Linked DNA regions of Homo sapiens. The protein of the gene in region 2 purifies or fractionates together with the protein of the main gene of each other region. This does not show direct contact. Each region holds a gene or a part of one and is shown on either strand. Other genes may lie near its edges. The genes, in order: PTPN5, MEF2A and SETX.

Region 1 (3,652 bases), on a different chromosome or scaffold from region 2:
CCAAAGGAAGGGAGCTATGAGGGAGGAGGCACCTGCTTCTGTACCCCTGTGGCTTCTACCAGGAGGAACTCACCCCAGATACTCTTGGCCTCTTGCCTTTTCCTGCTCACAGAAGTGAGGAGTTACCTGTTTGGTGAATTTGGTTGAGGAATGGAGCTTTGGAGCCTCAGCCCCTTCCTTCCTCCTCCTCTCAGGGCCCTCCTGCCAGGAAAGAATTATAGGGGTGCCCCCATGCGGCAAGGTCCGAGATGTGCCGGCACCCCTGTGGAGGGTGGAAAGTGCATGTAATTCTGGGTCTCAGTATCGGGAGGCTCACTCTTGCTGTACCCTGCTAAGCCACATTTCCAACCTGTATTTTATTGACAACAAAGGTGATATTGTAATCTCCTATGCCTTAGCTCTTAACTGGCTGAGCACTCAGGCAGGTAAACAGGGGTGCCATTTATTGAGCCCCTCAAAGTCCAATAGGAGGCAGCTGGAGGCTGCTGCAGAAGCCAGGGTGGAGGTGATTAGGACCTAAGCTAGGGCCCCAGGGGTGGTAACGAGGGGAGGCCACTAGAGAGATTTCAAAGGCAGAAGAACAATGCTCGGCAGGAGGAAAGTGGGAAAACAGAAGAGTTAGAAGTGAAGGTTCTCTGTGGCTTTCAGAGCACAGCACTGGGCAATAAAGACTTAGCATTGTCACTGTACCTCCATCACCTGGCTGGGTGCTCTGCACATGTTATAAGTCTCTTTAATCTTTGCAACAATTCTATTATTTTCATCCCCATTTTCCAGATGAGGAAACTGAAGCTCAGAGGGAAAGCAGCTTGCCCAAGATGGTGGGAGAGCTGATAATAAAGTGATACTAATCTACTGCAGATGCTGAGTTCCAGGCACCACGCTCCACCACCTGGGCAGGTGGATGATTGACATGGGTCTGCACACAGTGGGGCGACCGGCTCAAGGGAACTCACAAAGAATTCCGCCTGCAGCAGGAAAGGGTCCAGGGCCTTTTCATGAAGCTCTTCTGCTTGGAGGACACGGGAGGCGCTGAGCAGGTACTCGCGGGCGGACTCCTCACGTGGGGACATGAGATAGCCAAAGCCCTCCTCGTTGCAGCCCGGAGTGCACATGTCCAGGGTCAGGGAGACATTGGAACCCCTCCTGGAAGGACCAGGAAAGGGAGTGTGAGCCTCAGGGGCAGAGGGACGGGCATGAGCTGGGGTCTCCAGGGCTGGGAAAATGAGGGAGGGAGAGATCAGCTGGGAACAGGGTGGGGTTGAGGAAGAGGAGTGGGAGTGTGACAAGACCCCCTGACAAAGAAGCGTGAATCTCAGCCCTGAGGCATTGGCCTGACTCCCTATCTCCTGCCTCCTGCAGTGGAGATGTTAACTTAGTGGGGATTTGGGGCTCCAGTTCTAAAAGTTCCATCCAAAGCTACCCCAACATGGCCTTACCCTGGACTCTCCTCCATCACCGTTGGAGGAAGTTCTACCCTGTGGTCCCCAGGAAGCTCAGAGAGGGGACACCTGCCTGAAGCACAGAAGCGGGGCTTGGGCCCGAGAGGATGGCTCCAGACCCTCCCCACTGCAGTCCCGGGCCCAACAGCCCTGGGATGAGGCTGCTGGTGAGTCAAGGACATATTGTCCAGGAGAGGCCAGGACCCCCGCTGTCAGGAAGGAGGGAGTCCCAGGAGCAGCACGGTGGCCGCAAGGATGTCTACAATGGGCAAACTCTACTATACTCAGAGTCTCAGACACAGGACAGGATGGGGCTTCATTACATAGAAAGAGAAACTGAGTCCCCATGAAGGGCCAAGAGTTGTCCAGGCTCTCCCAGTAAGGGGGTGGCAGAGCTGAAATAAAAAGCTAGGTTTCCTGACTCCACACCCAGTGTTCTTTCTGTGACATCACATGGGTAACTCAAATTTGGTGTGATCTGGCTCACCCACCTAGACTCTGAAACGAGGGTGTCTACACTTCTCAAAGTGTGCTCTGTGGAACACTATGAGCTACCCTATAAAAACAGGTTCTAATTGGGTACCCAGGTACATAAAGATGGCAACAATAGAAACTGGGGACTACTAGAGGAGGGAGGGAGAGAGGCGGGCAAGGGATGAAAAACTAACTGCTGGGCACTACGCTCAGTACCTGGGTGATGGGATCATTTGTACCCCAAACCTCGGCATTATGCAATATGCTCAGGTAACAACACTGCACATGCACCCCCTCAATCCAAAATAAAAGTAAAACAAAAAAATAGAGTTCCGTGGTCAAGTGACTTTGGGAAATGCCACATACTGCCCCCTTGCTGATTTACAATGAACATAAGCATGTTAAAGGCCCTGACAAGTCCTGCAGCAAAGAAAACCACCCAAACTTACTTGAGCATGGGAGAGTGTGTGTGAACATGTGTACACCTATGTGTGCGTGTGCAGTAACAGTATTTCTCAGCATTCATCTTGGGGCACTTTGATCTCTATGAATGACCTGGATAGCACATGTCTACACTGGCTAAGCTATAAGGCCAGCTCTGCCCTGGGCACCAGGAGTCAGAGTCAGGCATCCACTCTTCTGATCAGGAGCTAAGAGCTCAAGGGCCCGTGGAGCCCACCCCTCCTCCACCCCTCCCACCTCTCCTGCAGACCCATGGACTTGACGGTGAGTGAGGTGGGGTCAGCCTCAGGCTTGATGTCCATCACACAATCAAACACAGGAGTCTCGGGCACCGGGTCGAGGTCCAGGAAGTCATCCTCGATCTTCTCCTCCATCCACTCTGAGTAGGTGAAGGAGGGCTGGCGGCTCACTGACTGGCGCCTGTCCTCAGGGGGCAGTGGGGTGGGTGGCTCTGGGGGTGTCCTCAGGAGGTGCCACACCTGGTTGGGGTGTACAGCATCACAGATTTCGGACCACGCTGGCTGCCCCCCGTGTTCCTGGAGTGCCCATGGGATTGACGCCCCCCCACTCCCTCAGTGTGTCTAGAGCAGCTCTGCTCTCCTGGGAGTTGTCCACAAGGCACTGCCCCTGGCCTCGATGGGAGGCTCCATGCCCACTCTCCTTCCCTGCCCCTCCCTCTCCCAGCTCTCTGTTTCTTGTGGCTTCAGGCCTTCTCAGTGGGGCTTGGGAGTTCCTACACCAGTCTTCTCCCTGTCTCATCCCCTTTCCTTAGCCCAGATCACTGCAAACCAATTTTCGGAAAGAAGGAGGCTCTTGCCCCAGGCTGGCACACTTGTGCAAAGAGATAGGTATCCCTCCTTGCCCCACCCAGAATGTCCAGCCTATAAGTCAGATGGGAGCTGGTAGAAATCCAGGCCTCAAGGTCAGAGGAGGACAGCCTTGAGGTTGGGGTCAGGAGGCGCCTTACCAGGGTGGTAACGAGGACCAGGCCCACGGACAGAAAGACCAGCAGCAGACTGGGGACTCCCCACGTCCCAGAGTCAAGCCAGGCCTGGGGAACATCAGATAAACAGGTCAGGGTGGTGGTGGGGGCAGAGTTCTCAGCTCTTGCAATGATGACAAAACCAAGATTCTGAAAATCACGTCCCAGGTCTGGGATGGGGAGCAGGCAGAAGAACTTCAGGGGCTTGGAAGTATCTTCTGAACTCAGAGAAGCCCAATCTGGAGGTTGGGGAGGGTGGGACTAGAGGCCCCCAACAGATCCCTGCTACCCT
Region 2 (3,652 bases):
CTTCCTGGGACTTCAATTTAACGTATGCTAGTCCTTTTTATTGCATGCTCTGGGTCTTCTTTTTAATTTTCCATCCCTTTGTGTCTCCAAAATTCTGGATAATTTTCTTCTATCTTATCTTTTAGTTTCTTAATTCTTGTATTTGCTTTGTCCAATCTGTTTTTAAGCCCATCTGTTAAGTTCTTAACATTACGGGGTTTTTTTGTTCTAAAATTTCCATTTTTTAAATAAATTTCAGTTCTCTGCTAAAATTCTCAATCTTTTTGTTTTTTAAATACCCTTGAACACAGTAAACACTGTTATATTAAAGTCAAAGTCTGTGCCTAGTAACTCCAAATTCTGGAGTTCCCAGGAGGCTGATTCCATTGTTTGTTTATTTCTGCAAGTTTTCATTTGCTTTATTTGTGTGTGTGCCTAGTTCAGCTTATGTGCCAAGTTAGAAATAATAAGGTCTGAGATGGTGTTTTATTTTATTTATTTATTTATTTATTTATTTTTGAGACAGCGTTTTGCTCTTGTCGCACAGGCTGGAGTGCAGTGGCATGATCTCGGCTCACTGCAACCTCCGCCTCCTGGGATCAAGTGATGCTCCTGCCTCAGCCTCCTGAGTAGCTGGGATTACAGGCACTTGCCACCACGTCCGGCTAATTTTTGTATTTTTAGTAGAGATGGGGTTTTGCCATGTGGGCCAGGCTTATTTTATTCTTCCAGAGACTATTTGCTTTTCCGGGCATTCTGGAACCCCTAAATCTAATTTCTAATCACTACGATCTAATTTTAACAAACTTTTGGGAGGTCAAGGCAGGCAGATCACCAGGTCGGGAGATTGAGACCATCCTGGCTAACACGGTGAAACTCCGTCTCTACTAAAAATACAAAAAAATTAGCCCGGCGTGGTGGCGGGCACCTGTAGTCCCAGCTACTCGGGAGGCTGAGGCAGAATGGCGTGAACCCGGGAGGTGAAGTTTGCAGTGAGCGGAGATGGCGCCACTGCACTCCAGCCTGGGCGACAAGAGCGAGACTCCGTCTCAAAAAAAAAAAAACAAAACTGTATGATGCATCTGTAAGATGTCACTACTGAGAAGAACTGTTTATCTCTGGTTTACTTTACTTCTAGAGTCCAGCCTTTTGGGGTGTCAACCCAATGTGAGAGAAGCATATTAGGCTCTCACAATTCTTGGTGGGCCCTGAACTTATTATTCTGTTGGGGGAATAAAAAAAAAAAGGGACACAAAAACAGTATGTAGGCATACAAACAACTAAAACAAGAGCTGAAAAAAAACCATAAATATTTGGAAATACACATACAAGAGTAGCAGCCCTAGTGTTTAACTGGTACAACCTTTATGTATTTTCCCACATTTAATTGTTTTCTGTTAAGTAAGACTCCACAATAGGTCTTATCTGTTTAATTCCATTAAAATATTTAATACTGTGGCAGATATAATTAGGCATTTATTCCTACTTTGTCATTAAATATTTTGTAACTTGTCTTAATAATATCTTTATTGATGTTTGTTTATTTCTTCCTCATCATTTTTATTAAGTCATTCAATCATCTCCATAATTTTTTTTTTTTTGAGAAGGAGTCTCACTCTATCGCCCAGGCTGGAGTGCAGTGATGCGATCTCAGCTCACTGCAACCACCGCCTCCCGGATTCAAGCAATTCTCCTCCCTCGGCCTCCCGAATAGCTGGGACTACAGGTGCACACTGCCACGCCCAGCTAAATTTTTTTGTATTTTAGTAGAGACAGGGTTTCACAGTGTTGCCCAGGCTGGTCACAAACTCTTCAGCTCAGGCAATCTGCCCACCTCGTCCTCCCAAAGTGCTGGGATTACAGGTGTGAGCCACGACGCCCGGCCAAGACAAATATGTTAATTATCTTTCTATCTGTAGAAGTAGATAGACCCACCATTTCTTTTCATTCTAGTCTCTCTGAAAACATTTCATGCTGTTGTAAGATAGAGTAGTTTGGTAACAGTCTAACTTTGGTAAGCAGGGAAGTTAGAGAAAGTCTCCCCTTAAGAAATTATCTTGATGTATTAGTGAAAGTACCCTTCAGAAGGAAATTTCCCAGAAAGCTTTATTTCAGGAACAACATTCCTTTGATCTCATATAGGATAGATACCTACAAAACAGAAGAGTAGGAATTCACTCACCCACTGGACTGCTTCCAGCTCCATTTGGCACTGTGAGGTCTGTAGTGCTCAACATCCCACCTAACAACGTTACGGAGAGAAGACAGAGGGCAGAGAATGAATATGAATTAGCTCTCTTTACCTAACTGAACGTGAACTGAATAGAGATAACTCTCACTCTAATCCTAAAAAGACACAAAAATAAAAACTAGCTCAGTCTGAAGTTGGCATTAACATGTAATCTGATGTAGTTATTATATCTCATATATATGAGTTTACCTTTCAAGCTTGATGTCGCCTTCAATACCAAATAGTGGTATTGCATCAATACCAAAATAGTACATACTGATAAAAACGGGGGCAGTGTGTAAGGAGTATGATTAAATCACTAAATTAAATCTAGGACTTAAGAGAGAGGAGACACTGCATTTCATAGACTAATACAATAAATGTAACATAAATTTTGCTGAATTAATGAAGTAATTCAGGCAGGAGGAGATGTAAAAGATACTCTAACTCCAATCAGGTAGTCTATCACCCATATTTCTAACATGAATGGCTCACACTCTACTTTAAATCCTTGCTTCTGATATCTAACTAAATTTTCTGCCTGTCAAAGTATGGCTTTCCCATGAGAAGGAAAGCATATAAATGGCAGGTTCTCAGTACTGTTCTACTTTGCATGACACAATGCTACACCCACAATTGATTTTCAAAAAAATACTTTAAAATGAGGCCAATTATGTATCAGTGATTCTTGCTCATCAAAGCAATAAAAGAATAGCAAAATAAGAAACTGCTTATGTTAGCAATGAATTTTTTCACCCTCTTTATTAAAGAACCAGCATAATAGGTATCACTACATACCTGCATTGCCAGTACTTGGTGGTCTCTGAGGAGCTCCAGGAGACACATTTCTATGTAATGTGGTTTGAGGTGGAGAGAGCATGCTTGAATCTGTTAACGTTGAGCTGGCTGCCAAAGATGGGGACACCAGTGAACTCCCTGGGTTAGTGTAGGACAAAGCATTGGGGCTGGTCACTGGAACTGTGACAGACATTGAAAAGTTCTGAGGTGGCAGACCAGGCTGTAAATAAAGAAAAAGAAGGAAAAAACTGTTGGTTTCGTATTCATCTACAAAGTAACTTTTGAACTTTAATTTGGCAAGGTAACTCAAGTTACTAAAAGTAGAGGATAGGGATAGGTTCTTAACCAATTTACAGATTAAAGCTATTTTCTTTAGAATTATGTTTGAACATGAATATGACTGACATGAGCCTTTTCAATTTCAACTTTATACATTAATATATACTAATGTCTATATTCTATATTTCAAATATTCATAAAGACAAATTTAAGAGGATAAACCTGATAATCAAGTAGTGTTGTCATATTTAGACATTACAAAATATATCACTGTCACCAAGTAAGCATAAATTGGCACTTCAATGTAAACCTTAATAACATTACATTTCTACTGAGAGATCCCAAATATAACGGAAGGAGAAAAGT
Region 3 (3,652 bases), on a different chromosome or scaffold from region 2:
GGGATGAGGGGTGCCTGATGTTCTTTATAATGGGCCAGATAGAAATCTTTGACTATTTTAAACTCTGTATATGTACAAATGGAACTTGTGCTCATTCTGTTTTTAAAAAGCTGAGACTACAAAAATGTCCTGAAGGAAATAAATCTTAATAAATATCTTTTAACTCAGGAAATGAAAGTAAGTGTCTACCCTTCATAGGGTTATGAATGGCTTCTAAGCAATTTAGTGCTTTCCAGCGAAAATAAAGCAACTCCTGCTAAAACAAAAGTACCTTAGGAAAAAAAAATAATAAAGCAACTCTCAAAAATGGCTAAAATTTGAGGTACGAATTGATCAAAAGATTTAACATAAAGTACATTGATGAAGATACGTTCACTCAAGCTTTATAAAAGCCATTTATCTTGCCATGTACAGTGTTAACAACTCACTTCTCTTCTTTTGTAGTAGACTTGTCCCTTTGTACATTACACTTCCTTCCCCAACACTCCAATCTTGTTACCAGACTGTCTTTGCACTCCACTCTGCCTGTAACATACTTCCCACAGTTAACTCCTAGTCACTTGGGTCTCAGTGTAAATATCATCTGCTCATAGAGGTTATCTGATCTCTCCAGAAAGTGCCCTGTCCCCTTTGTTCTAGATCATACTAGAGTCCTTATCTCAATCCCAAATGGTCACTTCCAGAGAGCAGAGACCTCACACCTGTCTTGTTCACCACTTTATCTCCCATGCTTGTAAGAGCACTTGGCACATACTAGGCACTCAAATATCTATCAAGCTAATGAACCATGACTATTTACCTCAACATTGTTGGTTTTAAGAGTATTACTGTATACACGAAAGTTTCTTTTGAGGATTAACTAAAAATTTGCTCCCACTTCTTACCTGCCTTGAAAACACACACACAAAAATCCTTCTAAACGCAGTTGAATGCTTACACTAAAGAATTATTTGATGTTTTTCTCAAATTTTAACGGGAATCTTATCGTTTGTCAACTCTACTTGAGTAAGGAGGAGAGAAGAACCAGAATAGGATGTGCTGGGGTTGGGGAGGCTGTTACACAGAGCAGCTGCTGTGATGAGTAAGAAACTGGCGGCCAGACGCAGTGGCTCACGCCTGTAATCCCAGCACTTTGGGAGGCCAAGGCGGGCAGATCACAAGGTCAGGAGATTGAGACCATCCTGGCTAACATGGTGAAACCCCATCTCTACTAAAAATACAAAAAATTAGCCGGCCGTGGTGGCGAGAGCCTATAGTCTCAGCTACTCGGGAGGCTGAGGCAGGAGAACAGCCTGAACCCGGGAGGCAGAGCTTGCAGTGAGCCGAGATTGCACCACTGCACTCCAGCCTGGGCGACAGAGCGAGACTCGTCTCAAAAAAAAGAAAAAAGAAAAAAGAAAGAAAGAAACTGGGAAGTCTGACGTGTAGGGAAATTTAGGATTCATTACTTTGTGTTCAATGTAATTCACCCTTTGCCACCTCCTCAAGAAAACTACAGCAGAGGTCTCTTACTTAAAAACAAAACAAATGCACATGGGAAACTATCTCCTCTGAGAAGTCTTCCTTTACCCGTGCGTCAATAAACATTTCCTTCTGTGTTACCTCTGCACTTGGTATATTAGCACCCTGAGTTGTGTCTATCAGCTCCAAGGAGCAGAGTTTCCAGCCAGGCACAGTGGCTCATGCCCGTAATCCCAGCACTTTGGGAGGCCGAGGCTGGTGGATCACCTGAGGTCAGAATCAGAAGTTCAAGACCAGCCTGACCAACATGGTGAAACCCCTTCTCTACTAAAAATACAAAATTAGTGAGGCCTGGTGGCGCAGGCCTGTAATCTCAGCTACTTGGGAGGCTGAGGCAGGAGAATCACTTGAACCTGGGAGGCAGAAGGTTGCAGTGAGCAAAGATCGCACCATTGCACTCCAGCCTGGGCAGCAAGAGCAAAACTCCACCTAAAAAAAAAAAAAAAAAAAAGTGTTTCCTCTGTATTGCCAGTATCTAAAACAGTGGCTGGCACAAATGTCTGTTCAACATGAAATCTAAAACCAGTATCTAAATCGAAACGGTCAATTTTAATTTAACTATACTTTTTTTTGTTTTTTCTTTTGAGACAGAGTCTCACTCTGCCGCCCAGGTTGGAGTGCAGTGGCGCGACCTCGGCTCACTGCAACCTCCGCCTCCTGGGTTTAAGCAATTCTCTGCCTCAGCCTCCCGAGTAGCTGGGATTACAGGTGCCCGCAACCACGCCTGGCTGATTTTTTGAACTATACTCTCATTTTCACTCAGCAAGGTAAAGAGGTAACTTGAAAAGTTTGGAGAGGCATACAAATGAAACACATACTTACTGTTTCAAAAGTATTCAATACCATCAAAGGGAAAAAAACATTAAAATAATCTCCATAATTGTGAAATCTGACAGGCACAGGTCTTGAGATGGACTGACAAAGACTTGCAGGGGGCCCACACTGACCAAAGTTCAAAAACATTTCATATTTCCATTTTAAGACCTCTTTAACGAAGGTGTCAGAGACAGACTGTGATGACAAAAGAATGTTTACTGGAGAGGAAGATGGAAAATATTTGCTTTCACCAAATGGAACTTTGCAACCTTGCCTGTTGGAATTATTCGGAGACTGAGGATGAAGAACATTGCACGAATTCTTCATTTCACCAACTGGCTTCTGAGCTATGAGGGGAACTGGCTGTGGTACTTTCAAAATCGACTGTATCCCCTTTGACTTATTTTTTAGAGACGGTGAAAGTGCTGAAGAAGTTTCCAAAGATTTAGAAAGACCAGCAATTCGTGAAGTACTCTTTGAGCTAAAAATCTTAGTGGTAGGTCTCAAAGGTTTAGATGCAGGAGGAGGCAAGCCAGGTTTACGAAATACATCTTCATCTGCTGCTTTCACTTCAGAGTGTTTTGGGCAGTATTCACCCTGGTTTTTTGTGGTTTCAAGACAATCTTTGTACTTACACTTTGTGCCACTCAAAGATTCCAACTGAGGCCGACTTACAGAATCTTCTTCAACCTCAACTGTATCTTTTCCATGAATTAGTTCAATGAGTTTATAATTGTCATTCTCCATTTGTGAACATAAATCCATATCTTCAGGATCATTTTGGGTTAAAAATAAGTTATCTTCCTCTGCATCACTGCTGGAGTCAGGCTCTCCTTCTTTCAAAGCTGCCATCTCTATATGACGTGCTGTTGGATCACCTCCACCCAGAGGGTCTTCTGAAGTGGAGACAATTACTTCATTTGTTGGTACTGTTCCATTTAACACTACAGAATCACACTGGTTCAAAGGGCAAGCATCATCAGTTGCTGGAGACCCATGTTTTGCTTTTATGGTTTCTGGTTCAGAAGGCATGCATTTTATTAACTGTTTTCTGTTACTGTTGGCAAGTACCTCAGTTCCTCCTGTACAATTATAATCTGACCTATCAGATTCTGGTACAAATATGTCAGAATTCTGTGCTGTATGTGACCCTGCTCTTTTAACATCTGTACTTTCACAATCAGAAAGTCTTCGTCTATTTTTTTGTGATTTGGGTCTGATCTGCCTTTGCATCTGAAGTTCTTGACTAGTCAGAAGTTTCTTATTATTTCTGACAGACAGGTTCTGAGGAGAAATTAATTTAGTCTTTTTTCGG

What was found.
Region 1: the proteins of MEF2A (region 2) and PTPN5 purify together in Homo sapiens (affinity purification with mass spectrometry; one large-scale study listed by BioGRID and IntAct). This does not show direct contact.
Region 3: the proteins of MEF2A (region 2) and SETX purify together in Homo sapiens (affinity purification with mass spectrometry; one large-scale study listed by BioGRID and IntAct). This does not show direct contact.

The regions. Positions count from the first base shown.
Region 1 is NC_000011.10:18,739,647-18,743,298, forward strand, and holds part of PTPN5 (tyrosine-protein phosphatase non-receptor type 5), read right to left. Parts: intron 3,430-3,652; coding exon 3,346-3,429; intron 2,858-3,345; coding exon 2,616-2,857; intron 2,242-2,615; exon of another isoform or gene 1,147-2,241; coding exon 957-1,146; exon of another isoform or gene 778-956; intron 1-777. UniProt on the Homo sapiens protein: May regulate the activity of several effector molecules involved in synaptic plasticity and neuronal cell survival, including MAPKs, Src family kinases and NMDA receptors.
Region 2 is NC_000015.10:99,673,968-99,677,619, reverse strand, and holds part of MEF2A (myocyte-specific enhancer factor 2A), read right to left. Parts: intron 3,228-3,652; coding exon 3,008-3,227; intron 2,222-3,007; coding exon 2,162-2,221; intron 1-2,161. UniProt on the Homo sapiens protein: Transcriptional activator which binds specifically to the MEF2 element, 5'-YTA[AT](4)TAR-3', found in numerous muscle-specific genes. Also involved in the activation of numerous growth factor- and stress-induced genes.
Region 3 is NC_000009.12:132,323,981-132,327,632, forward strand, and holds part of SETX (probable helicase senataxin), read right to left. Parts: coding exon 2,344-3,652; intron 1-2,343. UniProt on the Homo sapiens protein: Probable RNA/DNA helicase involved in diverse aspects of RNA metabolism and genomic integrity.